Linked DNA regions of Homo sapiens. The protein of the gene in region 2 purifies or fractionates together with the protein of the main gene of each other region. This does not show direct contact. Each region holds a gene or a part of one and is shown on either strand. Other genes may lie near its edges.

The links.
Region 1: the proteins of SIGLEC7 (region 2) and WDR89 purify together in Homo sapiens (affinity purification with mass spectrometry; 2 studies listed by BioGRID and IntAct, with this or other methods). This does not show direct contact.

Annotation. Positions count from the first base shown.
Region 1 is NC_000014.9:63,626,132-63,641,775, forward strand, and holds part of WDR89 (WD repeat-containing protein 89), read right to left. Parts: exon of another isoform or gene 15,168-15,644; intron 3,491-15,167; exon of another isoform or gene 3,139-3,490; intron 1-3,138.
Region 2 is NC_000019.10:51,142,160-51,157,803, reverse strand, and holds SIGLEC7 (sialic acid-binding Ig-like lectin 7 isoform 1 precursor), read right to left. Parts: upstream 15,504-15,644; 5' UTR 15,435-15,503; coding exon 15,002-15,434; intron 13,399-15,001; coding exon 13,120-13,398; intron 12,893-13,119; coding exon 12,845-12,892; intron 11,950-12,844; coding exon 11,683-11,949; intron 11,051-11,682; coding exon 10,954-11,050; intron 10,584-10,953; coding exon 10,487-10,583; intron 4,882-10,486; exon of another isoform or gene 4,742-4,881; coding exon 4,559-4,741; 3' UTR 4,278-4,558; downstream 1-4,277. UniProt on the Homo sapiens protein: Putative adhesion molecule that mediates sialic-acid dependent binding to cells. Preferentially binds to alpha-2,3- and alpha-2,6-linked sialic acid.

The DNA.
Region 1 (15,644 bases), on a different chromosome or scaffold from region 2:
GTGAGCCACCACACCCACCCATGAAGGTAAAAAGTGAGAGACCTGATTAGACAAAAACATAACTAAAATAAGGTAAAACGTATTAAAAATATAGTTAAAATTGAAATTGGAAGAAAATTTTCATAACACACTATCAAAGGTTAATACCCTTACTATGCAAGAAATTTATCCAAACAAAAAATAATAGCTAAAAGAAGCAGTAAGTCATAAAAGGGAAAATTCTAATGAACAAGAAACGTAAAAAGATGTTCAACCTCAGCCGGGCGTGGTGCCTAATGCCTGTAATCCCAGCGCTTTGGGAGGCCAAGGTGGGCAGAACACGATCACATGAGCTCAAGAGTTTGAGACCAGCCTGGCCAACATGGCAAAATCCCATCTCTACTAAAAATACAAAAATGAGCTAGGTGTGGTGGTGCACGCCTGTAATCCCAGCTGCTTAGGAGGCTGAGAGGCATGAAAATGGCTTGAGCCCGGGAGGCAGAGGTTGCAGTGAGCCAAGATCACACCACTGCATTCCAGCCTGGGCTACAGAGTGAGACTGTCTCAAAAAAAAAAAAAAAAAAAAAAAAAAAAAAAAAAGTTCCGTCTTACTAACAGTTGAGGAAATAAGATGCATTTTCACCTATCAGGTTGGCAAAAATTAAAAACACTGATAACATCAAGGCTGATGGGGTGTCAGGAAATGGGCATCTGTAAACATTCTAGGTTGGGCACAGTGGCTCACACCTGTAATCCCAGCACTTTGGGAGGCCAAGGCAGGAGGATCACTTTGAGACCAGGAGTCTGAGACCAGCCTGGGTATCACAAAGAGAACCCGTCCTTACAAAAAAAATACAAAAATTAGCTCGGTGTAATGGCGTATACCTGTAGTCCCAGCCACCCAAGAAACTGAGGTCAGAGGATCACTTGAGGCTAGGAGTTCCAGGCTGCAGTGAGCAATGACTGTGTCAACGCACTCTAGCTTAGGTGACAGAATAAGACTTTGTCTCTAAACACACACACACACACACACACACACACTCTCTCTCTCTCTCTCTCTCTCTCTCTCTCTCCTCTCTAAATGTTAAACTTTTTGACAAGTATTCTGGTACTATATAATAAAACTAGAAGTATGTGTCTCCTTGAATCCAACAATCTCCCATAAGCATCTATCCAAAATTAAATATATGCGTATGTAAGGAAGGATATTTATTAAAGAATTGTAATAACAAAAAAACCTAACAGCCTGAATATCCATTAATTGGGAAGTGGTCAAATTAGAGTATTGCCACATAAAACAACATTAAGTAGCTTTTATAAAAAAATTAAAGTCCATAGTTTACCTTAGGGTTCACTTTTTGTTTTGTACAGTTCTATAGGTTTTGACAAATACATGTAATGAATCCATCATTATATAACTGTTTCACCACCCTAAAAATCCTGTGTTCTGCCTATTCATCCCTCTGCTCATCCTGAACCTTTATCAACCATTTATCTTTTTACTCTCTCTCTAGTTTTGCCTTTTCCAGAATGTCAAATGGTTAGAATCATAAAGCAAGTGGCTTTTTCTGGTTTCCTTCACGAAGGAATAAACACATGGAGTTCCTCTATGTCTTTCAGTGTCTTAAAAGCTCATTTCTTCTTATAAGTGAGTATCACTGAATTAAATTTCACTGTATGAAAAAAAAAAAATTCAGCTGGGTATGGTGGTACATGCCTGCAGTCCCAGCTACCAGAAAGGTGAGGTAGGAGGATCGCTTGAGCCCAGGAGGTCGAGTAGAGAAAGTTATTTCAATACTTGACTGGAAATTTTAGTAACTTTTTTGATTAAATTTCTCTAATAGGCTGAGCACAGTGGCTCACGCCTGTAAGCCCAGCACCTTGGGAGGCTGAAGTGGGAGGCTCCCTTGAGCCCAGGAGTTTGAGACCAGGCCAGGCAACATAGCGAGATTCCATTCTCTACAAAAAGTTTAAAAATCAGCCGAACGTGGTGGTGTGCACCTGCAATCTCAGCTACTTGGGGGAGCTGAAGAGGGAGGATTGCTTAAGCCTGGGAGGTCGAGGCTATGCGATCAATCAGGTGAACCATGATCACTCCAGTCCAGGCAACAGAGCAAGACCTTGTCTCAAAAAAAATCTAAAATAGTTTAAAAACTTAGTTTCTTTTTTAGAATTTATAACTGTACTCATAAAATATCTGATGAGAATTTTCGCTGACCAAAGAAATGCTGTAATTTTGTTCTAACAGTTTTACTGAGTTGACTGTTATTCTTAGGCTGCAACATTCATTCATCATTTCAACTCAGCTATAAAGAAATATATAACAAGAAAATTGGCAAGCTCTATGAAGAAAAATAAACCAGAATTTAAGGTATGTAACGTGATGATAATAGATGAGATGGGGTCAAGATCTTTTAGATAAGATGGCTAGGACAGACCCTAGAGATGTAACATTTGGGGAGACAACCTAATTTAAAAAGTGAGCAATGCAAATCTCTGGAGAAGTAGCTGTGATCCTAGCAATTTGATGTCAACCTTAAGAAAAAGAAAAAAATAATAATAAAGGCCACTGGCCGGGTGCGGTGGCTCACGCCTGTGATCCCAACACTTTGGGAGGCCAAGGCAGGACTGCCTCAGCCTAGGAGTTTGAGACCAGCCTGGGCAACATGGTGAAACCCTATCCCTATCAAAAGTACAAAAAATTAGCCAGGCATGGTGACGTGCATGCCTGTGGTCCCAGCAACTTGGGAGGCTAAGGTGGGAGGATTGCTTGAGTCTGGGGGCACCTATACTCCAGCAGCCTGGGTGACAATGTGAGACCCTGTCTCAAAAAAAAAACAAAAAACAAAAAACGATGTTTGCCTGTAGTAAGGACTTTACACAAACTCTTATTAGTCAAAGTTTGAAATACCAACTCTCCATCCCTGGTGATGTCCTAAAATGTTCTTCCCTTCATCACTTTCTTGGGTTGCCTTCTCCTTGAATCCCACTGCAACCCAAGCTTAGTAGAATGTTTAATAATTAAACATCAGTGTTAGGCACTCTTCTAGGTGCTAGAGGGACAGTGATAACTAGAACTTGATTCTGCCCTCAAAGCATTAGTGGATTTAAGCAGAACATTTGTCCCTTTCCATTTTCAAATATTAATTTTGCATATACCAGATCAAGTCTTTAGTATAATCACTTCCAGATCTTTAACTCCAAACTTCATCTCTTTATTCTCTTTCTGAAGCTCTTGTATTCTTAAATGCTTGCTACATGTGCTGCCAGAACTTAAAATTCAGATTATCCAAAATTTACTTCATTAGTTTCTCTCTTCAACCCATGCTCCCAATTTCCATGAATGATAGCAAAGTCTGACAATCAGTGGTTCTTCCTTTCTCCCTCAGGAACAGTTTACTTTCTTGACTTAGCGTTCAGGATCTTCCACAGTCCACAATGTCTGTTACTCATGTCTGGTCACTGAACATTTTCATATGCTGACTATGAGGACAGACAAGCATGAAAAGTACTGGAAGCAAGGGAAGAAGAGAAAGTTTAGTATTGCTGATCATAATGTGTGATGTTGGATGGGAAAGGAGACGACATTGAAGCAAGCAGCAGGGCAGGTCTTAGAGTTGTCTATCTTGTATACCCAACTAAAACGTCAAACTTTATTTTTTTTATTTCTTCTCACAGAACCAATTCGGTAAGAAAGGAGTTAGAACATTCAGTGTGTTACAGGGAATGACTAAAGCAGTATCTTATTTTTACCTACAGCAGCTACGTTAAACTATTTGAATAAATAAATGAATTGGAAGGGGTCGGTAGCAAAAATATTACATATTCAGAGTCATAAACACATTTTTTTTTCTTGAGATGGAGTCTCGCCTTGTCACCCAGGCTGGAGTGCAATGGCGTGATCTTGGCTCACTGCAACTGCTGCCTCCCAGGTTCAAGCGATTTTCCTGTCTCAACCTCCCAAGTAGCTGGGACTATAGGCATATGCCACCATGCCCGGCTAATTTTTGTATTTTTGGTAGAGACGGGGTTTCCCCATGTTGGCCAGGCTGGTCTCGAACTCCTGACATCAGGTGGTCCACCTGCCTCGGCCTCCCAAAGTGCTGGGATTACAGGCGTGAGCCACTGCACCCAACCCAGAGTCACATATTAAATTGCTCACATTTACAATGTAGAAGATGGATTTAAATAGGGAGAGGTAAGGCTGAAGGTTGGGAGACCATAGAGGCCATTAAAAAGTCCAGACAAGGGGCTGGGCGCGGTAGCTCACGCCTGTAATCACAGCACTTTGGGAGGCCAAGGCGGGAGGATCACCTGAGGTCAGGAGTTCGAGACCAGCCTGGCCAACATGGTGAAACCCCGTCTCTACTAAAAATTACAAAAATTAGCCGGGATGGTGGCCCACGCCTGTAATCCCAACTACTCGGGACGCTGAGGCAGGAGAATTGCTTGAGCCCAGGAGGTGGAGGTTGCAGTGAGCCAAGATTGTGTCATTGCACTCCAGCCTGGCCGACAGGGCGAGACTCTGTCTCACAAAAAAAAAAAAAAGTCCAGACAAGGATACGGAGTGCTTGCTTTGGCAGCACACATACTAAAATCAGAAGGCCACAGAGATGAGCATGGCCCTTGCACACGGATGACATGAAAATTCATGAAGTATTCCATATTTTTAAATGTATTGTCCTTTTTTTTTTTTTTTGTGAGACACAGTCTTGCACTGTTGTCCAGGATGCAGTGTAGTGGCACAAACACAGCTCATTGCAGTCTCAATCCTCCCACCCCAGCCTCCTGAGTACCTGGGACTACAGGTGATGCCACCATGCCCCAGCTAATTTTTTAATATTTTTTTTGTAGACACAAGGTCTCACTATGTTGCCAGACCTGGTCTTAAAAAATCCTCTGGCCTTAGCCTCCCAAGTGCTGGGATTATAGGTGGGAACCACTGGGCCCAGCCTGTACTGTCTATTTCAAAATAGATAGGAGAGGACTGTTGCATGTTCTCACCACAAAGTGATCAACATGTGAGATGACGGAGACACTAATTAACTTGATTTGATCATTACACGAAGTATACGTATATCAAAACATCACACTATATCCCAGAAATATGTACATTATGTGTCAACTAAAAATCAAACTAAAAGAGATAATGGAGTTCCCAACAGTAGGAATGGAGAAAAAAGGCGAATTTGAGAAATATTTTTCTTTTCTTTCTTTTTGCTTCTATTCACTGTGAATACTGTATTATAGTTTGACTATTTATTTATTTATTTGCACAGAGTCTTAACTCTGTGGCCCAGGCTGGAGTGCAGTGGTGCAACTGCCACTCACTGCAGGCTCAATCTCCCAGGCTCAAGCAATCGTGCCACCTCAGCCTTCCAAGTAGCTGAAAATACAGGTGCACACAACCACGCCTGGCCAATTAAAAAAAAAAATTTTTTTTTAATTTTTAGTAGAGATGAGGTCTTGCTATGTTGCTCAGGCTGTTCCTGAACTCCTGAGCTCAAGTGATTCTCTTGCCTCAACCTCCCAGTCTCTTGTACCTGGGATTACAAATGTGAGCCACCACACCTGGCCAGAGAAATATTCAGCAAGTTAACATTAGTGAAGCTTGGCACTGACTCGATTTGGAAGCACGGGGGAGGAACAGGTGCAGAAGGAATCCAGGCTGATTCTTGCATTGGATGACCAAGCGGAGTTGAGTCAGAAAGTAAATCCAGGCCAGGTGCGGTGGTTCACGCCTGTAATCCCAGCACTTTGGGAGGCCTAGGCAGGCAGATCACCTGAGGCCAGGAGTTTGAGACCAGCCTGGCCAACCTGGCGAAAACCCGTCTCTACTAAAAACAGAAAAATTAGCCGGGCGTGATGGGACACGCCTGTAATCCCAGCTACTTGGGAGGCTAAGACAGGAGAATTGCTTGAACCTGGGAGGTGAAGGCTGCAGTGAGCCGACAGTGCACCACTGCACTCCAGCCTGAGCAACAGAGGGAGACTCTGCCTCAAAAAAACAAACAAACAAAAAAAAAACTAAAAACAAAAAAAAGTAAATCCAAAAATCAAGAAAATGGGGGGAAAAAAAACAAAGAAATGCCCTTAGTTTTACTCATATAAGCCTGAGGGACTTCTGGGGATGGCCAAGGACAAACATTTGTATACATCAGTCTACAACTCAGAGGGAAAGTACGGGATTCTGTTATCAGACTATAGGAAGTAGCAGCACTTAAAAACTAGGAAAGTAGGCCGGGCGTGATGGCTCCTGCCCCTTATCCCAGCACCTTGGGAGGCTGAGGTGGATGGATCATCTGAGGCCAGGAGTTCAAGACCAGCCTGGCCAACATGGTGAAACCCGTCTCTACTTAAAAAAATACAAAAATTAGCCAGGCATGGTGGCGCAAACCTGTAGTCTCAGCTACTAGGGAGGCTAAGGCACGAGAATCAATTGAACCCGGGAGGTGGAGGTTGCAGTGAGCCGTGATCACACCACTGCACTCCAGCATGGATGATAGAGCAAGACTCCGTCTCAAACAAACAAAAACCCAAACTAGGAAACTGGATGAATTATACAGATGAATTATACAGAATGATAGCAGATGAATTATACAGAATGATGGCAAGCAGCAGGCCAAGCACCCTATAATAGAGAAAAATGAAAAAAGAATGGGAAGAAAACCAGAAAAGTAGCCAAATGACAGCTAATATTAACTGATCATTACCATTCTCGGTTACCATGTCAGCCTCTGCACATGAATTGCTTCAATGAACCCTCCCAATAATCCTAAAAGATAGTCCTTTTATTACAGTGTTTTAGATGAGGAAGCTGAGACAGGTATTGCATGATAGCTGAGAATGGGTATAGAGTCAGACTGCCAGAGCACAAATCCTGGCTTTACTAACTATATGTTTCAGTTTCCTGTAGTTTAAACAGGAGATAGCAATATCAATGCCATAGGGTTTCATAAATTAATTACCATGTTAAATGGTGCCTGGCACAAAAGCAGCACTCATATACCACTAGGTGGGAGTATAGAGAATGTTAAAGAAATGCAATATGTAATGTCAAATGATAACCTGCAGAATAAACTAGTATTTGACAGGATTTCCACCCCTTTTATGTATAAATATGTGTGTAAGTATATATATATATTTATGTATGTATATAGACTAGATGCTTCTAAGGTGAATTCACAATACAAATGTTCCCCTAAAAATGCTACCCTAATTCATCAAGCAGAAAGACACTTTAACATATTAATGATTTTTAAAATTTCCACTGTTAATTGGTAGATGAAATAAGATTAAGCCAGAATGAGGCTTTTCCTGACACTGGATAGTTTATAATCATGTAAACATATCTCTCAGACAATAAAGCAATATTTTATAAATATTTATTGACAGCTACAGACTTTGTTTTGCATTTTGAGGTTGATTCACTATTTAATTTTCCAAATTAGGAGACCATTCAAAAGGACTACGTTGAAATAGAAATCAAAACACATCCCTAAATGTAAATATTTATAGCTTGTATAATATTCATGTAAAGATATAGCAGAACTAGTTCTTTTAACCACTTTGGTGTTATAATGAGGGAAGATCAGAATCTACTAAGTTCTAAACTCATTTCCTCTCTACTGAACACAGTAAAAGACCCTGATATCAGAGAAATAACAAACAAAAGGCATAATTATTGAACTATCCAGAAAAAAACGGATATTAAGAGGATAAAAAGTTCACATGTGCTTTGTAGATCAGATGTGAAGGATAAAAAGAACTGAAAATCATGTACGGTCAGTTGCAACTTCACTAAACATAAGAATTAGACTTAAGCTATCAAACCGTTTTAAAAGTTTCCTTCCTGGCCCTTGGCATTGATTACTACTGCCATCTAGCAGGAGGTCCAAAAATTAAAATTACGAGAACTGTAAAAAATCATCAGGACATAATTCCAATCTCCAAATAGAAAGATGTTTACCATATTAATAATTACTTAAATTTCAGGCCGGGCACAGTGGCTCACACCTATAAACCCAACACTTTGGGAGGCCGAGGCAGGTGTATCACTTCAGTCCAGGAGTTCGAGACCAGCTTGGCCAACATGGCGAAACCCTGTCTCTACTAAAAACACAAAAACTGGCCAGGTGTGGTGGCTCACACTTGTAATCCCAGCACTTTGGGAGCCCAAGGCGGGTGGATCACCTGATGTCAGGAGCTCGTTACCAGCCTGACCAACATGGTGAAACCCCTTCTCTACTAAAAATACAAAAATTAGCTGGGCCTGGTGGTGGGTGCCTGTAATCCCAGCTACTCTGAGGGATGAGACAGGGAGAACTACTTGAACCAGGAGGCAGAGGTTGCAGAGAGCCAAGATCGTGCCACTGCACTCCAGCCTGGGCGACAGAGCGAGACTCCCTCTCAAAAAAAAAAAAAGAGAAGTGAAGGGAGAAATATTCAGGGAAATAGATAGCTTAAAGAAAAAACAAGGCTGAGCACAGTGGCTCACGCCTGTAATCCCAACACTTTCGGAGGCTGAGGCAGGCAGATCACCTAAGATCAGGAGTTTGAGACCAGCCTGGTCAATATGGTGAAACCCCATCTCTACTAAAAATACAAAATTAGCCAGGCATGGTGGCACATGCCTATAATCCCAGCTACTTGGGAAGGCTGAGGCAGGAGAATCGCTTGAACCCAGGAGGCGGAGGTTGCGGTGAGCCAAGATCGCACCATTGCACTGCAGTCTGGGCAACAAAAGCGAAACTACATCTCAAAAAAAAAAAAAAAAAATTAGCTGGGCATGGTGGTGCGTGCCTGTAGTCCCAGCTACTTCGAAGGCTGAGGCAGGAGAATCGCTTGAACCTAGAGGCAGAGGTTGCAGTGAGCTGAGATTGTGCCACTACACTCTGTCTCCAAAAAAAAAAAAAATGGATTCACAGCAGAATTCTACCAGACATTCAAAGAATTGGTACCAATCCTTTTGACACTATTCCACAAGATAACAAAGGAACTCTCCCTAATTCATTCTATGAAGCCAGCATCACCCTAATACCAAAACCAGGAAAGGACATAACCAAAAAACAAAACTATAGACCAATATCCTTGATGAACATAAATGCTAAGATCCTTAACAAAATACTAGCTAACTGAATCCAACAACATATCAAGAAGATAATCCTCCATGATCAAGTAGGTTTCATACCAGGAATGCAGGGATGGTTTAACATACACAAGTCAATAAATGTGATGTACCACATAAACAGAATTAACAACAAAAATCACATGATCATCTCAATAGATACAGAAAAAGCATTTGACAAAATCCAGCATCCCTTTATGATTAAAACTCTCAGCAAAATCAGCATATAAGGGACATACCTTAATGTAATAAAAACCATCTATGACAAACCACAGCCAACATAATACTGAATGGGGAAAAGCTGAAAGCATTCCCTCTGAGAACTGGAACAAGACAAGGATGCCCACTCTCACCACTCCTCCTCAATGTACTACTGGAAGTCCTAGCCAGAGGAATTAGACAACAGAAAGAAATAAAGGGCATCCAAATCAATAAAGAGGAAGTCAAACTGTCACTGTTTGCTGAAGACATGGTCAATTACCTTGAAAACTGTAAGGACTCCTCCAGAAAGCTCCTAGAACTGATAAAAGAATCCAGCAAAACTTTTGGATACAAGATTAATGTACACAAATCAGTAGCTCTTCTATACATCAACAGCGACCAAGCAGAGAATCAAATCAAGAACTCAACCCCTTTTACAATAGCTGCAAAAACAAACAAACAAACAAAACTTAGGAATATACCTAACAGGCTGGGTAGTGGCTCAAGCCTATAATCCCAGCACTTTGGAAGGCCGGGGCAGGTGGATCACTTGAGGTCAGGAGTTCGAGACCAGCCTGGCCAACATGGTGAAACCCCATCTCTATCAAAAATACAAAAAAATCAGTCAGGCGTGGTAGTGCACACCTGTAGTCCCAGCTACTTGGGAGGCTCAGGCAGGAGAACTGCTCAAACTCGGGAGGTGGAGGTTGCAGTGAGCCAGAGCAAGGCTCTATCTCAAAAAAGAAAGAAGAAAAAAAGAATATACCTAACAAAGGAGTCAAAAGACCTCTACAAGGAAAACTACAAAACACTGCTGAAAGAAATCATAGACAACACAAATGGAAACACATCCCATGTTCATGGACGGGTAGAATCAGTATTGTGAAAATGACCATGCTGCCAAAAGCAATGTGCAAATTCAATGCAATCCCCATCAAAATACCACGATCATTCTTCACAGAACTAGAAAAAACAATCCTAAAATTCATATGGAACCAAAAAGGAGCCCGCATAGCCAAAGCATGACTAAGCAAAAATAACAAATCTGGAGGCATCACACTAACTGATTTCAAACTATACCATAAGGCCATAGTCACCAAAACAGCATGGTACTGGTATAAAAATAGGCACACAGACCAATGGAACAGAATAGAGAACCCAGAAATAAACCCAAATACTTACAGCCAACTGATCTTCGACAAAGCAAACAAAAACATAAAGTGGGGAAAGGACACCCTTTTCAACAAATGGTGCTGGGATAATTGGCTAGCCACATGGAGGAAAAATGAAACTGGATCCTCATCTCTCACCTTATACAAAAATAAACTCAAGATGGATTAAGGACTTAAACCTAAGACCTGAAACTAACAATTCTAGAAGACAACATTGGAAAAACCCTTCTAGACATTGGCTTAGGCAAGGATTTCATGACCAAGAACCCAAAAGCAAATGCAATAAAAACAAAGATAAATAGCTGGGACATAATTAAACTAAAGAGCTTTTGCACAGCAAAAGGAATTGTCAACAGAGTCAATAGACAACAACAGAGTGGGAGAAAATCTTCACAATCTATACATCTGACAAAGGACTAATATCCAGCATCTACAACGAACTCAAATCAGTAAGAAAAAAAACAAACAAGCCCATCACAATGTGGGCTAAGGACATGAAGAGACAATTCTCAAAAGAAGATATACAAATGGCCAACAAACCTATGAAAAAATGCTCAACATCACTAATGATCAGGGAAATGCAAATCGAAACCACAATGTGATACCACCACACTCCTGCAAGAATGGCCATAAGTGAAGAATAAAAAAACAAGAGATGCTGGCGTGGATGTGGTAAACAGGGAACACTTCCGCACTGCTGGTGGGAATGTAAACTAGTGCAACCACTATGGAAAACAGTGTGGAGATTCCTTAAAGAATTAAAAAGCAGAACTAACATTTGATCCAGCAATCCCACTACTGGGTTATCTACCCAGAGGAAAAGTCATTATTTGAAAAAGATACTTGCACACGCATGTTTATAGCAGCACAATTCACAACTGCATAATCGTGGAACCAATCCAAATGCCCATCAATCAACAAGTGGATAAAGACACTGTGGTGGGTGTGTGTGTGTGTATATATATGTGTGTGTATATATATGTGTATATATATAATGGAATACTACACAGCCATAAAAAGAAATGAATTAACAGCATTTGCCATGACCTGGATGAGACTGGAGACTATTATTCTAAGTGAAGTAACTCAGGAATAGAAAACCAAACATCATATATTCTCACTGATATGTGGGAGCTAAGCTATGAGGACACAAAGGCATAAGAATGATACAATGGACTTTGGGGACTTGGCCGGGGGAGGGGGGGCAAGGGATTAAAAGACTACAAATATGGTGTAGTGTATACTACTCAGGTGATACGTGCACCAAAATCTCACAAATCATCACTAAAGAACTTACTCATATAACCAAATACCACCTGTACCCCAATAACTTACGGAAAAATTTTTTTTTTTTCAAAACAGCCTCGCTCTGTTACCCAGGCTGGAGTGCAGTGGCACGATCTTGGCTCACTGCAACCTCCGCCTCCCAGGTTCAAGTGATCCTCCTGCTTCAGCCCCCCAGTAGCTGGGACTACAGGCACGCACCATCATCCCCGGCTAATTTTTGTATTTTTAGTAGAGACAGGGTTTTGCCATGTTAGCCAGGCTGGTCTCAAACTCCTGACCTCAGGTAATCCACCCGCCTCGGCCTCCCAAAGTGCTGGGATTACAGGCATGAGCCACCGTTCTTGGCCAAAAAGTAAGTTTTAAAAAAAAGTCACTGCCCCCCCAAAAAAGAAAATTACAAGAAGCTACATTAGCTGGGCACTGGGTTGCATGCCCATAGTCCCAGCTAGGAGGCTTACGTGGGAACATCAGTTGAGCCCAAGAGTTTGAGTCCACCATAGGCAACATAGTGAGAACCCTATCTCTAAAAATAAATTTAAAAGTAAAACAATAATGAAACTACAGAATAAACAGTCTTTTCTCTAGAACAGCAATGCTTAAATATAATTCAAAACAGCATCAACCATGAACATATAAAACTGAATGCAAAAGTCACATAAAATTTTAAATTATAAGATTAGAATTCAAAGAAATTTTACTCTTCTAAAGCATTAATTCAGGCTTTGTTTCCAAATATCACAGGAATATTCATTTACCTTTGCTATTAAAGATATTCCAGTGGAAAAATTGGCGAAGCTCCAACCTGTGGTGACTTAGGTTATTTTCACAGTAATAAGAAAGTCTAACTCAGCAACCATTTACTGTGAATTTGTTTTTCTCTTATAGTCCCTGTGAGACTTTATGGGATAGGATGTTTTACTCTTCTTTATACCTTCCTGTGGTAGGCTGAACACTGGCCCTCAAAGATACAAAGGTCTTAATTCCTGGAATCTATGACTGTTTCATTATATGACAAAAGGGACTTTACAAAGTATGTTGAGATGGAGAGAGTATCCTTGTTTATCTGGGGGGGTCCTTAATATAATCACAAATGTCCTCATAAGAGAGGCAGAGGGAGATGTGACTACAGATGAGAAAGTGGTATGATGATAGCATGATGTCCTGTGCAGAAAAGAGCCACAAGCCAAGGAAGACAGGCAGCCACTACAAGCTGAAAAAGGTAAGGAAATGGATTTTCTTCTCACAGCCTCCAGAAGGAATTGGGCCTGCAACACTTTGACTTTAGTCCAGTGAAACTGATTTCATACTTCTGACCTCCAGAACTAAAAGACAATAAATGAGGCTGAGCATGGTGGCTCATGCCAGTAATGCCAGAACTTTGGGAGGCCAAGGTGGGAGGACTGCTTGAGCCCAGGAGTTTGAGACCCACCTGGGCAACATAGCGAGACCTCATCTCTACCAAAAAAAAAAAAAAAAAAAAGGAAGAGGTGACTCTCTTGAGTACATCTGCACTCCCCTTTCTTAAGTGTGTACTTTTCACCAAAGGAAAAAAAAAAAAGAAAGAAACAAAGGCAGAAAGAATAAATGTGTGTTATTCGAAGTCACTAAATCTGTTGTAATTTGTTACAGTAGCTATATGAACAAAATACACCCTTTTGACAGTTTGGCGATAATCTGTACATAATCTGCCCTAAAATATTGAACAGAATTAACATAAAGACCATTCCAGTTCAGATTTATCAAAATTCTCTTGTATTTTCTACCAAGTAAATGAAAATATCTTAAACACATGGAAATCACTGAAAATGTAGTTCTTTAAAGCACATAGGGAAAAAGTAAAAAAGCAGTAGCATCTTCAGTCGTATTTGCAGCTCATAGTGTCAGTTGCAGAAAAAGTAGTCATGACTTTAGTACAAAAGTACAACTCAAAAACTTCACGGGTTTGGCACAGTGGCTCGTGTGTAATCCCTGCCACTTGGGAGGCTGAGGCAGGAGGATCACTTGAGCTCAGAAGTTCGAGGCTGCAGTGAGCTAAGACTGTGCCACCGCACTCCCGTCTGGAAAAACACCCTGTATTTACAAAGTGAGAGAAAAGAACCCAAAAAGTAGTTACATGGGCTTGATCTTACTTTTGCTTTACAATAGCTACAACAATCTAAGGTAAGAATACAAACCAGGTAAGTAACATAGCTGCATTCACAGGAAAGTATTCCTGAATACTGAACAAGGAGATAAGCAGTCCATAGACGTTTCAGAGGATTTCTCACTTAAATGGTACTTGACTGCAAGTTACCACTGTTTTACTCGGCCATAGGTTGCAGTGCAGTCCAGGCTCCACAAGAAAGAATTTGAAAAGCAGAAACAGTCACGTGGCTTTCATCGGTAACATATTTTGTATCTATTAAATTATTTAATCCTCAGAACTCTAAGTAGTCAAGTTTGGTATTTATTTCAATTATACAGGTGAAAAAGCTGATGCTGACTTGTCCAGTCAAAGGTCAGTAACTGGTGCCTACTGCGATGTCTTTCCTCTAGATCATTTTACCTTGGTAACAATCGATTAATTCACTTCTAGGTGTGTTTTATTGACTTTTTTTTTTCTCTTTTTTGAGACGTTGTCTCACTCTGTCGCCCAGGCTGGAGTACAGTAGCACGATCTTGGCTCACTGCAACCTCTGCCTCCCGGGTTCAAGCGATTCTCCTGCCTCAGCCTCCCGAGTAGCTGGGACTACAGGCGCCCGCCACATTTTTGCATTCGTAGTAGAGACGGGGGTTTCACCATGTTGACCAGGCTGGTCTCGAACTCCTGACCTCGTGATCCGCCCGCCTCGGCCTCCCAAAGTGCTGGGATTACTGGCGTGAGCCACCGCGCCCAGGCTTTTATTGACTTTAAATAATTTCAAATTAATAAAGAAAACGGCCGGGCACGGTGGCTCACGCCTGTAATCCCAGCACTTTGGGAGGCAGAGGCGAGTGGATCACCTGAAGTCAGGAGTTCGAGACCGGCCTGACCAGTATGGTGAAATCCCGTCTCTACTAAAAATACAAAAATTAGCCGGGCGTGGTGCCAGGCGCCTATAATCCCGGCTACTCGGGAGGCTGAGGCTGGAGAATCGCTTGAACCCGGGGGGCGGAGGTTGCAGTAAGCCGAGATCGCCCCACTGCACTCCAGCCTGCGCGACAGCCTGAGACTCCATCTCAAAAAAAAAAAAAAAAAAGAAAAAGAAAAAGAAAAACAAAAAAGAAAACAGGAGCAACATTTTACAAATTATACCATCTTTTAATTTTACATCCATGGAAGCTGAATGCCACAATTTGTCAGAGACAAGCTAAAGAAAACACAAGAATGAGTAATGTCTAACACTGCTTCGCGTGAAAATGAGAACACTCACAGTACCTACCTCTTTAGATAGCCATGTGGTTTAAATGATATAATAGACCAGTTGCTGGTATCATACCACATCCCATACTACGGGTCGTCTCTTCCCAAGTGAAAATCTGCTTTCTGGCCTACAAAAGGATTATACTAAACCCTTTTAGTGGTGGGGAGAGTATCCGTGGAGAGGAAAGAGCAGGAGGAAACAGGTCTTTCCCTGAAAATGAGCAAGGGCGTTTGGCTTTTATTGAAAAACGCCCCAGAGGAAGTACTGGGAACTGCACCGGCAACAGCAGCCTGACCCGCAGAAGTTTCTTTGGCCAGGGCCAGCACAGGTTTGACCTGGTGGCTCCGACGGCGGAGCGAGACTGCCAACACGTGCACACTCCGTCCAGACCTCCCACTTCCCTCCGCGCTCCCGCGATAGCTGTCCAGCAACTCTAGCTTTCTAGACTCAACCACGGCGTCGCCGCTCGTCGAGAGGGCTGCCCATCCCGGGGAC
Region 2 (15,644 bases):
CAAGAGCCTAGCTAAGAAGGATTCCACGTTTTACGTTCTCCACTTGCTTCTGAAGTTAAGCATCACAACAGCCCTATGAAGAGGAAACATTTCATATCTTCATTTTACAGGTGTAGAAAGAGGCTTAGGGGAGGGAGGCAACTTAACTGAGATCACATGGGAAGTAAGTGGCAGTGCTTGGTTCAAACCAGGCAGTGTTGCCAGGAATCCTTTCTATCCTCAAACGACCTGCACAGCCTTTAATCCAGCAGTCCTGAGTAGTTAGGGAGCAATTCACAAGACTGCCCTCACTTCTGATGCCAGCTGCACATTGGGGAGTCCCTGACCACATTCAGTTTTGATAGTTCACTAGTAGGACTCAGAACTCACTGAAAGCTGTTATCCTCATGTGATGTCTCATTACAGCAAAAGGATACAGATTAAAGTCAGCCAAGGTGAGAAGAGCATGGGGCAGGGTCCAGGGAATTCCGAATGGGGAGTTTCCAGTTGTCCCCTCCCAGTAGAATCATAGACTGTGGTAATTCCTCCTGACATGACATGTGACAACATGCATAGAGCATTGCCAACCAGGGACACTCACCTGAGCCTTGATGTCCTGGTGTGGCTTTGTCACATAGATGTGGATAACTGTCTACATGGCTGACCTTAGTTTCAGCTGCTCCACAGATAGAGCTGATACCAGTGACCCAAAGTCCTATCGTTAGTTATATTATTAGACTATTTGGTGAAGTCCAAGGCTTTCAGGTAAACAAAGACACTCTAATCAGGTGAGACATTCCAGGGACTTAGAGGTTCCCTCCCAGTAGCTGAGAGCAAAGGCCAGGCCTCTTTTTGGCAGGGTTCAGCTCTTTGCCACACAAGTCCACCTCTGGGACTCACCACGGATCTGCAAATGGGACTAGGCCAGAGACATCCTGGGCCAGCCTGCAGCCAGGTTGGTCTGGGTTGGAATCAGCTCCAGCTCTTGAGCTCTGTGGACTTGGGAGCTGCCCTCACTACTCAGAACTGATGCACTCAAATGTGAAATAGGGACCCCAGTCCTCACTTCTCAGATTAGAAATGGTCAGTGTGCCTTTGCTGAGGTCTGCTTTTGTGTAAATAGGGGACTACTTAAAACCAATTATTTTTTAAATTGATGTTCAGTTTATTAAGTGTTCAAACCCCTTGACCCTTCAAATTCCACTCATTGATTTCTTTCTTCTTTTCTTGTAAACTTACTATAGTCACTGTCACTCTCTTTTACTGAAATTGAACAGACTGTGCTCCCTTAAACAGAGAGTTTGATTTAAAGAGTCAGTTATACATTCCATACATTCTTTTTTCTTTATAGCCCTTCAGCTGCCTACTGGGGCAAGTTCACAACCCAGCAAGATCCTCACAAATTCTCGGACAGCTCTTGGAAATCTAATCTACTGAGCTTATAAATACATCAACACTTAGATTCTTCCAGTGTTCCAGGTGTGTTCACAGAGTTTATCAAACTCTTCCACATCTTTCACCTGAAAAAAATAATCACACTTCTAAAATCACCTTTACATCTCCTTCTGGAAACACTTTAGTGGTGTGTTAGATTTCCTAATGCACAGGCTATGGCGCCCATTGTGTGGAAGCTGGGGTTGAAGCGTGAAGGATTTCTGATCTCCATACAGCTGTTTACAGGTCAGAGGCTTGGAACCAAGACCCAGGATCCAGAGGCTTCAGCTGCTCAGGGCGGTTGCCCCCAGGCCCTGAGACTGGCTCAATCCTTCTGTGTCAGTTGCAGTCATGAAGTCCTAATCCTCTCCTCCGAGCCTCATTGTTTTCCATCTATAAAATGGATCAATAGTGGAACCAATCACATGAGTTGTTCTGGGAATTCAACAAATGTGGGGACAGGCACAGAGCTTAGAACAGTGTCTGGCACACAGTAGGCCCCATGTGTTTGCTTTTACTCCAATGATTTTATTACGAGGTAAAGGGCTACCATGGGGCTGGCCCCTAGTAGGTCCCTGATCATGGCAGGTGCTCTTATTATGGTTATTGTTGTTGGCACAGCTGCCTTGCCTGGGGCAGGTCTAGGGGTCAGCTCAGGGTGCACAGTGGGGAACCTCTTGGCTGGAGGAGGACCTCATGAGGTGGTACCCAGGACCCCAAAGGGTCAGAAACACAGCCTCAGGCCTCCTTCCCTGTCTCTGCAGATGGGCCTGACTATCTGCTGCTGAGGGGCAATCCTGATGCCTTCAATGGCATCGTGACGGCTGAGATCGGCTCCCAGGTGGAAATGGAGTGTGTCTCCTATTCTTTCCCAGATCTCAAGTACTGCTGGATCCACAACAGCTCCTTCCTAAACTTCTCATATGCAAAGTTGTATCTCTTGAGTCTGGCCTGGTAGCAGATGGGCACTTACCAATGCACTGTGGAAAACCCCGTGACACAGCTGATCATGTACATGGACGTCAGGATCCAGGCCCCCCGTGAGTGCAGCAGCTCCCGTCCAGGCTCATGCTCTGCACATCTCCCTGCCTCCATGCCCTGCTAGGCAGTGCCCACCCTCAGGAGTGCCACCTCCACCCTGCCATGACATGCTCACAACCTCTGGGTGAAATCTCCCAGTCCTCTCAGGTCTGGGTCCAAAGATGCCTCCTCTATGAATCCTCTGGAGTCCTCAGATCAGAGTCAGGGTGAGTCACAGGGGGATAAGGGGGATAAGAGTGGTGGACATTAGCTGTGCACTTACCATGTGCCCACCACCATTCTAACCTGCTTGACCCTCACTGTCTCTCTATGGAGAAAGTGAATGTGATTAGCCTCACCTCCACTTTACAGGTGAGAAAACTAAGCCCCATGGAGTTTGAGTATTTTATTTAAGGCTTCAGTGCTAACCCACAGAAGAGGTGGGATTCAAGCCCGGGCAGGCCGAACCCACAGCCTGTGGCCTCAACTGTTCCCCTCAGCTCCCTCCAAGATGAGGAATTAGAAAGATGCAGGGATGGGACGGGATTTTGTCATAGCTCCATGACCATGACAAATCTCTACTCCCCACAAATTTCACCAAGCTCTTGGCTTGATTCTTGGGCCTCTAATAACAAAAGATAAACAAGCTGCTCTCCCTGCCCCCAGGGGTAATAATAACTAACCTAATTTCCAGAGTTGATGGCACGTCTTATGGCATGACATAACAGTGTGAAATAAATTATTATTATTAACTCCATCATTGTTGTTACTTACCCCTGGTAATTGCGCCAACAGTGTCAACTCCTTCCTCAGCTTCACCCGGCCTCTTTCCCCCACACAATGGCGTCTGCCTCCTGTGCCCTTGGAAATCTTTAAAAGTATGAGGATGTTGAGGACTCTCAGTGGAGAGGTGAAGACCGCAGACCATCTCCTCTACCTCCTAGGGTCCCACATGGGGAGGGCTTGGGCTTGGACTTGGCAGGAAGTTGGGCCCCTTCACCTCTCTACCCAGGACTCTCCCGTGTTTCTTATGGACCTGAGATGTGACTTCTTCCCTGATTTCTCCCCATAGGGCAAATCAGGCTGCATGTCCTCAGACCCGAGGACAAGACCAGAGGGGCAAGCAGGTGAGGAGAAGGTGATGGAGAAGGGCTGGGGTCTCCATAGGGCCTGTGAGGCTGGAAAGGGTCCAGGGTCCCTCTGGAGGGGACCAGCAAGAGAGGGACCCAGCCCAGTCACACCAAGGTCCGGAGATGGGGGCTCCTGGCGGAGGTCTGCAGACCCAACCAGGGCCCTGGGGATGAAATCATGGGCAGCATGGCCATTGGAAGCTCTATCTGCTGATCAGAGCTATGCAGGCTGGGGCAGGCCATGCGCAGAGCTGGGCTGTAATTTCAGGCGCCTCCTTTCTCAGCTCCTGTGTGTCCAGGTTCTCGGATTCCTTCACCAGAGGCCATGGAGTCAACGGAGATGCTGCAAACTTATGGCTAAGGGGTGCCCAGTCAGTGGTTGCTTCACTCAGTGCTGGGTGCCGGGTGAGAGAAGAGACCTCAGAATCAGGCAGGGATTAAATTCCAGTCCTGCCCTGAGTACCTGAGCGACCTGAACGCAGCCCCCGTGAGGCTCCCGCACCTCGATGCACCATGGAACGATCAAGTCAGCATGATTAGCACATCCATCAGCTCAAATTTTTATCTTTTTTTTTTTTTTTTGGTGACAACATTTAAACTCCTCTCTTTTAGCTATTTTGAATTATTCAGTACATTACTCTGTCATTGGAAACAACACAGATGAACTTAGAGGATGTTATGTTGAGTGAAATAAGCCAGGCACAGAGAGACAAACACGTTACAATCTCACTATATTCGGAATCTAAAGTAGTCATCCTTAGAGAAGTACAGAGGAGAATGGTGGGTACCAGAGGCCAGGGCGGGGAGTGTGGACCGATTGGATGGGGAAAGGGAGAGTTTGGTCATCAGGCATGCATTTTCAGTTAGACAAGAGGAATAAGTTCTGATGTCTTGTTGCACAGCATTGAGGGCTGCTAATTCTACTGGAATCAGCCTCAGACTCCTTTGCTGGAGGGGTCGTGAACCCTCAAACAAGCCCGAGCCTCTGCATTTTCTTACTTGGGGATCTTGATCTCTGAGTACTCATTGTTGGTGGCTTCTTGTCCTGATAGGTCCTGAGGCTCCCCCTTATGAAAGCTGAGGGGTGCATACTGGATCTCTCTTTCCTCCCCTGAGGAGTGGGCAGCCAGGCCATGGTGTCGGGGGTTATCATCTGCCCAGGACTCAGTCAGGTTACCCTGAATGGAGAGAGAGAAGAGAGTCAGAGCAGAGCAGTGGAAATAGGATAAGGCAGGGAGAGTCACAAGTTGTTTGATCGGTTGGTTGGTTCGGATATATTCCTCTGTATAGAATTAAACTTCATGAGTTCCTGCCTCTATCCCACGTTCATTTTATAGAAATCTCCTTCATTTATACTTTCCTGCAATATTTAACACTTATTGAGCAACTTGTTTGGTGTTTATTAATCTTATTAACTTCCCGCAACAACTCCATGAAGAAAGTAGCGTACCCAAACTCCCTGTTATGCCGGGACCCAATCCAGTCCCTTCCTTCTGACCCCAAAGCCTGGAGTCCTGCTGGGGCCCTCTGTGTGTGAAGCCCTGATCCGGGTGCTGGATGGACTGTGGTGGACACAGTAGGTGTTGGCCCTGACCTCCTGAAACTCACTTTTTAATTGAGGGAATTTGGCAAAAATGACTGTCAAACAAACGAATATCTATGTGTGAATTATAAGATGGGCAGGAAGAGGCTAAGTGAGAGAGAATTACAGGGCCTTGATTTGGATGGGGCACCTGCTCTTAGGAAGCTCACAGTTCGGTGGTATGGGGAGGACAACTCAGTCAAAGAAATTATATCCTCTGATAAGAAGTATAACTGCTCCCCAAAATGTCCATACCCTAATCCCCTGAAACCTGTGAATCTGTTACGTTACATTGCTAAAGGGACTTTACAGATGGAGCTAGGTTAAGGATATTGACATGGGGAGGTTATCCTGGATTATTTGGGTGGGCCCAGTGGAATGACAGGAGTCCTTACAAGTGAAAGGAGGAGGGCTTAGAGAGATTGGAAGATGCCAGGCTACTTGCCTTGCAAACAGAGGAAGGGACTTGAGCCAAGGAATGCAGGTGCCTCTAGAAGCCAGAAAGGGTGAGAAATTGCATCCTCCCCTGGAGCCTCCAGAAGGAACCAGCCCTGCCTGCCAATGCCTTGATTTTGGCCCAGTGACACCCATTTTGGGGTTGTGACCTTCAGAACTTTAATCCATGTGTGTTGTTGGAAGCCAGGAAATGCATGGTAATTTGTCACAGCAGCCACAGGAAACTAATACAGACTCACACAGCAGAGAGTGACAGAGGCTGCCTGGGAGGGTCCTCCTTCATCGCAGCCCTTCCCTGCTGCTCCCCTGTGCAGAAGATGCTCCATGGAACTGTCAGTGATTTTGCTTGCCAGATTCTCTCTTGATTACTCAAATTAATATTCACACACATACCAAGTCTAAGCACTGCTACTATCAAGGTCACTGTGACTACCACTTAAGTGGCTGAGTCTAAATGTCCACCTTGCAGTCTTCTCCTTCCTGGACTTTTCAGCAGCAGAGGACCCAGCTGCTCACCTTCCCTACACAGAAGGCCTTCTTGACTCAACTATAGGACATCATGCTTTTCTGGGTCCACCTCACCTTCTTGGCAACCTCTTTGCCAATTGCTTCAGGTCTCCCTGACCTTAAATATCAGAGCAGCCCCGGGTTCTTTTCTTCTTTACCTTTGCCTTGTGATCTTATCCACTGTGTTGGCTTCATGCCATCAATAGGCTAATGACTCCCAAATCTGTACCCCCAGCCCACTCCTTTCTCCTGACTATAGTCTTTGATCCAGTGGTATAATTCAAACCCCCGCGTTCTTGTCCAAAGACACACAAAACTCAACCTATTCAATCTGAACTCCTCCTTTTCTTTCCCAAATCCATTTCTTCTGCAATCTTCTCAGCCTCAATGATTGGCACCTCCATTCTTCCCACTGCTCAGGGCAAAAATCTGGAAGTAATTCTTGCTCCCTTTCTGTGGCTCACATTCTAATTCCAATTCATTAACAAATCCCAGTAGGTTCCACTGCAGAATTCATCTGGGAGACAGTCATGTCTACCACTGCTGCTATCTTGGTTCCAGCCAACACCACCTTCTGCCTGGGATGTTCACCAGCCTCCTGTCTACCTCCTATGCTCTCTCCTTCCCCTGCCACACACACGGTCTCTTCTGCACACAGTGGCCAGAGGAATCCCATGAAAATGAAAGTTGATCATGTTCTTCTGGTCTACAGCTATACCACCCTGAACGGACCCAATCTCGTCTGATCATGTCCTTCTGCTCAAAACTCTCCAAATGCTCACAGTAGCCTGTGCAGTCAGACACAATTCACATAGGCTCAACTCCTCCAAAGTCATTTCCTGCTCTCAGTCCTGCCTCCCTCTGTCTAATCACACAGATGTCCCATGGCTCCTCTCCTTTCCTCTTCCTGTGCCTGGGCCTTGCTTTGCTCCTCCCTCTGCCTGGAAGGCTCTTCAATCACACAATAAATGTCAGATCTGAGCCTCCTTCTGTTCCTACTGAAACTATTCCCAAATACGGAGGAAGACTGACTCTTCCCTAACTCATTCTATGAGGCCAGTATCATCCTGATACCAAAATCTGGCGAAGACACAACAAAAGAAGAAAACTTCGGGCCAATATCCTTGATGAACATTGATGCAAAAATCCTCAACAAAATACTTGCAAACTGAATCCATCAGCACATCAGAAGGTTAATCCAATATGATCAAGTCGGCTTCATGTTGGTTCAACATACACAAATCAATAAATGTGATTCACCACACAAACAGAACTAAAGACAAAAACACATGATTATCTCAATAGATGCAGAAAAGGCTTTTGATAAAATTCAGCATCGCTTCGTGTTAAAAACTCTCAGTAAACTAGGTATTAAAGGAACATATCTCAAAATAATAAGAGCTATCTATGGTGAACGCAGAGCCAACATCATATTGAATATGGAAAAGCTGAAAGCATTCCCCTTGAAAGCCAGCACAAGACAAGGATGCCCTCTCTCACCACTCCTGTTTAACGTAGTATTGGAAATTCTGGCCAGAGCAATCAGGCAAGAGAAAGAAATAAAGAGCATCCAAATAGGAAGAGAGGAATTTAAACTATCCCTCTTTGCAGATGCATGATTCTATATCTAGAAAACCTCGTAGTCCCAGCCCAAAAGCTTCTTAAATGATAAATAACTTCAGCAAAGTTTCAGGATACAAAATCAATATAGAAAAATCACTAGTATTTCTATACATCAGGAACTACCAAGCCAAGAGTCACATTAGGAACACAATCCCATTCACAATTGCCACAAAAAGAATAAAATTTTTAGAAATACAGCTAACCAGGGAGGTGAAAGAACTCTACAATGAGAATTACAAAACACTGCTCAAATAAATCAAAGGTGACACAAATGGAAAAACATACTATGCTCATGGATAAAAAGAATCAAAATCATTAAAATGGCCATACTGCCCAAAGAAATTTATACATTCAATGCTATTTCTATCAAACTACCAATGAGATTCTTCACAGAACTAGAAAAAACAATTTTAAAATTCATATGAAACCAAAAAAGTGCCCAAATAGCCAAGGCAATCCTAAGCAAAAAGAAAACCTGGAGGCATCACGTTACCCAAATTTAAACTATATTACAAGTCTACAGTAACCAAAACAGCATGGTAGTGGTACAAAAACAGACACATAGACCAATGGAACGGAATAGAGAGCCCAGAAATAAAGCCACACACCTACAACAATTTGATCTTCAACAAAGCTGACAAAAAAAAGCAATGGGGAAAGGACTCCTGATTCAATAAATGGTGCTGGGATAACTGTCTAGCCACATGCAGAAGATTGAGTGGGACTGCTTCCTTATACCACATATAAAAATCAACTCGAGATGGGTTAAAAACTTAAATGTAAAACTCAAAACTATAAAAACTCTGGAAGACAATGTAGGCAATATCGTTCTGGATAAACAGGCAAAGATTTCCTGACAAAGATGCCAAAGCAATCACAACAAAAGCAAAAATTGACAAATGGGATCTAATTAAACTTAAGAGCTCCTGCACAGCAAAATAAACCATCAACAGAGTAAACAACCGGAATGGGAGAAAATACTTGCAAACTATGCATTAGGCAAAGGTCTAATATCCAGCATCTATAAGGAACTTAAACAAATTTACAAGAGAAAAACAACCCCATTAAAAAGTGAGCAAAGGACATGAACAGACATTTTTGGCCAACAGACATATGAGAAAAAGCTCATTATCGCTGATCACTAGAGAAACGCAAATCAGAACCACAATGAAATATCATCTCACACCAGTCAGAATGGCTACTTTTAAAAAGTAAAAAAAATCACAGAGGCTGGCAAGGCTGCAGAGAAAAGGGAACACTTATACTGTCGGCAGGAGTGTAAATTAGTTCAACCACTGTGGAAAGCAGTATGGTAATTTCCTGAAGAGCTAAAAGCAGAACTATCATTTGACATAGCAATCACATTACTGGTTTTATACTCAGAGTAATAAAAATCATTCTACCATAAAGACACATACAAGCAAATGTTCATTGTAGTACTATTCACAATAGCAAATATATGAAATTAACCTAAATGCCCATCCATGACAGAATGGATAAAGAAAATATGGTACAAATACACCATGGAATACTGTGCAGCCATAAAAAAGAATGAGATTATGTCTTTTGTGGGAACATGGATGGAGCTGGAGGCCATTATCCTTAGCAAACGAACACAGGAACAGAAAACCAAATACTGCATGTTCTCACTTATCAGTGAGAGCTAAATGATGAGAACTCATGAACACAAAGAAGAGAACAACAGACACTGGGGCCCACTTGAAGGTGGAGGGTGGGAGGAGAGAGAGGAACAGAAAAAAATAACTGTGGGGTACTAGGCTTAGGACCTGGGTGACAAAATAATCTGTACCACAAACCCCTCTGACCAGAGTTTATGTATGTAACAAACCTGCACATGTACCCCCAAACCTAAAATAAGAGTTTTTTTTAAAACTATCACAATTACTGAGATTTTTGGCACCTTCTTAAATTTTGCATGCTAGGCCAGGACCTCACTCATCTCACACTAATTCCAGCCCTGCTAGAGAGGTAGATGTTTAAGAGACGAGAATGTGCAGGGCTGCAGTTATGAAGTTTGGGCTTTTTCTCTAGGTTAGGGCTTGTCAAACTAGAGCCCTTGGGACAAATTCTACCCACAGCTTGTTTTTATAAATAAAGTTTTACTGGCACACAGCCAGCTAATCATTTACACATGGTCTACGGCTGATTTCCTGCTACATCAGTAGAGTTGAGGAGCTGCAATGAGACTGTGTAGGCCAGAAAGCCAAAAATATTTCCTATCTGGCCTTTCCAGATAGTATTTTCTGGCTTCTGCTCTAGACAGTGTTGGGGGTGGGAACAGCTGTCCAGATGCAAAGAAACTGATCAGTGATGGCTTCTGAATGATTCCTCCCATCAGGGCAGGGGACACAAGAGGCAGGGAGGTGAGGAAGTCCAAGACAGAGATCCTCAGGCCTCAGCATTGAGAGAGTTTAGGATTGGTGGGGGTGGGAGCAATGCTAGCCATTCTTAGGGAGGAAAAATGGACAAGATTTGGTGAATGTGGAGCTATAGAGAAGAAAGGGAGGACAGAGAGGAGATAACTCCTCCTCCATGCCTGGCCCGAGAGAAAGTAGGTAGGAGGGACTGTCATGCAGTCAGCAAGATGGGGAATCCTGCAGGAGAAGCTGGATGGTGGGAAGGAGGAGGAGATGAGGAGATAATTTTGGCCATGATAAGCAGAGAAATCCTGGAGGCCATCCTGTGGGAGATGTCCCAGCTGGATGCTGGGTGTGGAGACGCCCATATCACTCACCTGAGAGGCTGAGCCCCTGATGGTGTTTGCATCCTTCATGCCTATGTCTCCCACGTCCGCTGCTGGCCTTGCCGATTTCTTCCTGCAGGACCTCACTCTGAGTGAAGAGACCAGAGAGCCTTTCAGTGTGGTCAGATCGGGGTGCAGTGGGCAGACCAACCCCTGCCCTGTATTTCCTGTTGGGGCGCTGGAGGGGTAACTGAGGTGGGAGGAGGGTGGTCCAGTCCCAGAGACCCCAGTGTTGAAAACAGAGGCTCCTGCCTCCTGGGTGGTGGGGCCCAAGGTTCACCACAGATGTGGAGCCCCACAGACAAGGGCGCTCTTGAAATTCTTGCCACGCACCCGTGAGCTCATTCTTGCCCCAAGCTCTTGACCCATGCAGTCCCTTCCAGCTCTGGCTTCAGGGATCCTGCTCCCAGTCCGCCCTCCCCCAGGACTCTCCCTCCCTCCCTAGGGTCAGTGCTCACACAATGAAGATGACACAGAAGGAGAGGAAGACCAGGGCTGTGGCTCCAGCTCCCCCGACCGCCCCCAGCAACACTCCTGATACAGGCCTCATTTTGCCTGAGGATGGATTGGAATTGTTTTGGTGATCCAACTCCAAGAACTGGGTCTCTTCTCCTCCCACTTCCTATAAGGCCCCCAACTTGGGTACCCTAATCCCCCTTCCCAGAAACAAAGGGCAAGAATGGGAGGGAGGAGGAAGGGACAACTCCTGAGGTCACTGAGGCATGAGAGTGGTAAGCACAGCCTGCCTGTATTTGAAATTTTGATTTGTATTCACTGTCAAATTATTTTGCAATAATTTTTAGTTTTTAATAAAGATAATCACATCCAATATTATTTCACTTGCTTGCTGAGTTGTTTTATTTTTTGTTTTTTAGTCGTGTGCCCAGAAGTGAGTGCCTTGCTTGTGTCACCCTAGTCCAGGCACTGGAAAGCAAGGCACGTGTCTCCCCAAACACACCTGTCCAGGCCCCAGCTCCTCCCCTCCAAGACCCACTCCTCCCCTCTTCCTGCCTTACACACCTTTCCTGGCAGGAAGAGGACAGCAGTGCCCTGGGTTGCAGGGAAGTTCCAGGCCTCACAGCTGAGCACAGACCAGAGCTGAGCTCCCCCTTGAAGCTCAGGGGCAGTGGGTGGCCCATGAGGGTGGGGCAGGTGTGTTCTCCTCCTCCAGCCCCTCCCTTACCCACCTGTGTACTCCTGTTGCAGGGAGAGGTTCAGGGAAACGTGCTGGGAACCCAGAGAGTTCTGAGCTCGACAGGTGAATTCCCCTTCATCCCCCAGGTGCACTTGCAGCTCCAGTACCAGAGGGTTTGAGGGCTGTGAGGGGTACAGGGTCAGACTCCTCCAGGTCCAGCTCAGCCTGGCAGGGGGATTGCTGTCAACAGCACAGACCAAGCGCAGAGACTGGCCCTCTAGGACTGAAAGAGATGAGCTGTTCCCCAGAGCTGTGGATGCTGTAGAGAAAAAGTTGGAGGTTCAAAGAGACAAAGTGATTGAAACAGGGAGGAAGGATACAGAATGAGACTGGGGAATGGAACAGAGAGTGATGTAGGCTGGTGCAGGGACATACTTATGTTCACCGCTCACTGTTGGGAATGTAAACTTGCCCACCTTTATTTGAGGACAACTTCACCATATCTTTCAAAATCAGAAAGAACATATGACACTGGTAAAATGTGCTTTTAGGAATTTATCCTATACACTTAGATATTCCTTGTGGGAGTAGATACAACATTATTCATTGCAGTGTTCGTGCCGTAGGATAAAATTAGTGCCATGATCTTCCATTAGGAGATGCCACAAAATCAGAGACTATTCAGACAGTGGAATCACACACATCCCTAGAAGAGGGTGCAAACAGTCTCACTGCTGACATCAAACCACCTCTGAGATCTTCCAGGTGCACAAACCAAGGCTCAGGACAGCCTGGACAGACCCTGGTTGATTCTGGGGACACATTTTACTGTGAATTTAAAATTTTTGCCCACGTGATTATAGCATGTATCCAAAAGAACGTAGCTCAAAACTATTGGGTAAAATAAAAAGACGAGTTAGGTGGCATATTCAGGAGATGGAAGATAAGAGGCCCAAAGGCTGCTCCTGCTATATGTATTTCCCCCTGTCCTGGCTGCAGGGCTGAGGAGGGTGTGTGTGCAAGAGTCTGAGGGGAGTGGGGGGAAGAGGACAGGTGCTCAGGTGGCCACAGAGGCTAAGGATGGGGAGGAGGCCTGGGTTCAACTACAAGGGAGTCTCATATCACCAGGGTGAGTCCAGGATGAGGAGGGACCTGGCCCTGCCCTGAGCTGAAGGCCCTGCTCCCCCAGCCCCAGGGAGGGGGCTCCATCCTACCTGTGCCTTCTCCTTGGAAGACAGTCACAGTCAAGTTCTGAGGAGGGTCTGGGACAGAAAGACATGGAGACCTGCATCACTGTGAGGGCTGGGGACACTGGCCCTGTCTCCCCAGGAGCTGCATAAATGGGGAAGGCGGAGCCAGCGTCCTCCTGATCCCACAACCAGCCCAGATTCTGGGACCCAGCACCCAGTGTCGAGCCCTGACCCCATCCTCTGCCCTCAGGGACGTCCCCCCCTCATCAGGGACCAGGGCGTCCTGGCTCAGCACTCACAGGACACATTGAGTTGGATGGTCCTGTTCGTGGTCACGCCGGCCCCAGGCAAGGTCACCTGACAGGTGAGGCTGGTGCCGTGGTGCTGGGGCTGTGGGATGAGGGTGAGCACTGAGGAGCGGGTGGTGGAGGGGTGCAGGGGGGACACAGAGGTCCCCATCCAGGAGATCATAGGGGGCGTCCCCTGCTCACAGGCCCAGGGCACAGAGCAGGTCAGATTCTGGAAGCAGCCAGACTCCAGGGTACCGGGGATAAGGATGTTGGGCCTGTGGGTCAAGGCTGGTGAAGAGAGGGGGACTCAGGATCAGGACAGAGGATCCATGGTACAGCCCTGGGGGAAGCTCAGGCTCTGGTTCAGCTTCTGCCCTGAGCCCAACTCGCTTCACCCTCAGCCCTCTCCCAGGGCAGGGGCCCCATCCCAGGCTTTCGCTGCCACCCCCATGACCTTTCCCTGTGGTGTCTCCTGGAGCCTGTGCCTTATCTGTCACATTCACAGAGAGCTGCTTCGTTTTGTAATTCCATCTTATCTGTCCTCTCTCCACCTGGAAGTAGTAGTTCCTCAAATCCCCCTTCCTGGCATCTCTGATGCTCAGGGAGCAGTTGTTGGTCTTCAGGTCCCCAAGGAGGTGGAATCGGCCCCGTGTCTCCTGCACTTTTCCATTTGGGATGTTTGTGGCCACTGGATTATTCCATTGTATATTGATCCCTTTCTTAAACCAGCATCCATGGACAGGGCTAGAGTCAGTTCAGTTGTAATAGGGTTAAAGGACACTGCAGGGCACAGAGACGCACTAGCCCTCCTGCACCATCACCAACTCCAGCACCTCCAGCCTGTATCTTGACAGTGGGGCCTGGGACGCTGTGGGGAAATGAGGCTCAGCCCAGCCCCGACTGTCCCTCTCTTCATTTGCCCACAAGAGAGGCAGCAGCATCTCTGAGACAGAGGGTTCCTGGGCTCCTTGTGTGAGCAGAGAAGTGGGAGGGAGAGGAGGGGCAGGGCTGTGGGACCCACAGGGGGCTGGAGAGGGGCTGGAGAGGAGCTGGAGACCTCAACCCAGCACGAAAGAGAAACTACAAACCCACATGCTATAGGAACTGGTTCCCTCTGCACAGAGTGAAGGAAACCCTGAAGCTCAGAGACCCTAGAGACCCACCCAGGGAGGAGAAGAGACCGTGTCCCACCTCCTACCTCCGGGCTTCCCTGGAGCACCAGGGCCTGCACCAGACACGTAGGTCCTGCCCTCCCGGCCTCTGGACCATCGTGGAGGTCCCTCCTGTCTTTTGAGCATCTAAATGTGGATCTCCGAGGACCTCAGGGCATGAGAGATGGAGGGGCCGTGTGCTGAGTCTCCCTGTCCAGGCTCAGGTGCCTCTGCTGCCCTTGGTTTGCGCCAGGAAGTGCTTCCTCCCTGGCCTGGCCTGAGAGAGTCACGGGGTTGTGTAGACCTAAGGCTCTCAACTGGGGAGGACTTAACCCCCCAGGACGTTTAACAATGTGTGGAGATAATTGTTATTGTCTCACTGCATGGGTGGAGTGGGTGCTTCTGGCATCTGGTGGGGAGAGGCCTGGGATGGTGCTAAACCCCGGCCATGCCTAGGACAGGCCCCAAAACAAGGAGTCATAAGGCCCCACATGCCACAATGCCAGCGTCAGAGGCAGGATGAGGATGTCAGGCCTGTGGGTCAGGGCTGGTGAGGGGAGGGGCCTGCAGGATCAGGAGGGGCATCCAAGGTGCGGTCCTGGGGAAGCTCAGGCTCTGGTCCAGCTCCTCTCCTGAGTCCATCACCCCCGGCCCCCTCCCAGGACATGTGTCCCGTCTCAGCCGTGCCCTAAAGCCCTCATCACATTTGCCTTTGGCCTCTCTTGGAGCCCGTGCCTTACCTGTCACGTTCACAGAGAGCTGGTCATATTTATAATTCCATTTTATATTTCCTTTCTCCATACGAAAGAAGTATCTCCCCGCATCACTCATTCTGGCATCTCTGATGCTCAGGGTGCAATTTTTGGTCTGTGGGTCCCCAAGGAGGTGGAATCGGTCCCGAGTTTCCTCCTGCACTGCCCAAGCTGGGTTGTTTGTGGCCACTGGAGCCTTCCAGCTTATATCATTCCCTGCCCGGAACCAGTAGCCATGAACTGGGTCAGAGTCAGTCTGGCTGTCCACTGGGTAGGAGAAGGAGCAGCGCACATGGACACACATGCCCTCTTGCACGGTCACGGAACTCTGCATCGTCAGCGAGTAATCCTTCCGGTTACTCTTCTGTCCTTCCACCCTCTCCCTCCCCCAGAGCAGGGGCAGCAGCAGCAGCAGCAGCATATCTGGGGTTGGAGGTGCCAGGGCCGCGAGGGAACGTCTGTTCCTCAGGGTTCTTCTCTCAGGAACTGCGGGCTCAAGACTTAGAAGAGGCCCTACAGGAAGTCGGTGGTGAGGTCAAAACAGTGACCTCCTTAGAAGAAGAACTTCACACACAGACACTGTCAGGGCTGGGTCAGCCCTGGGAGATCCACCGTCCACCACCCGACATTC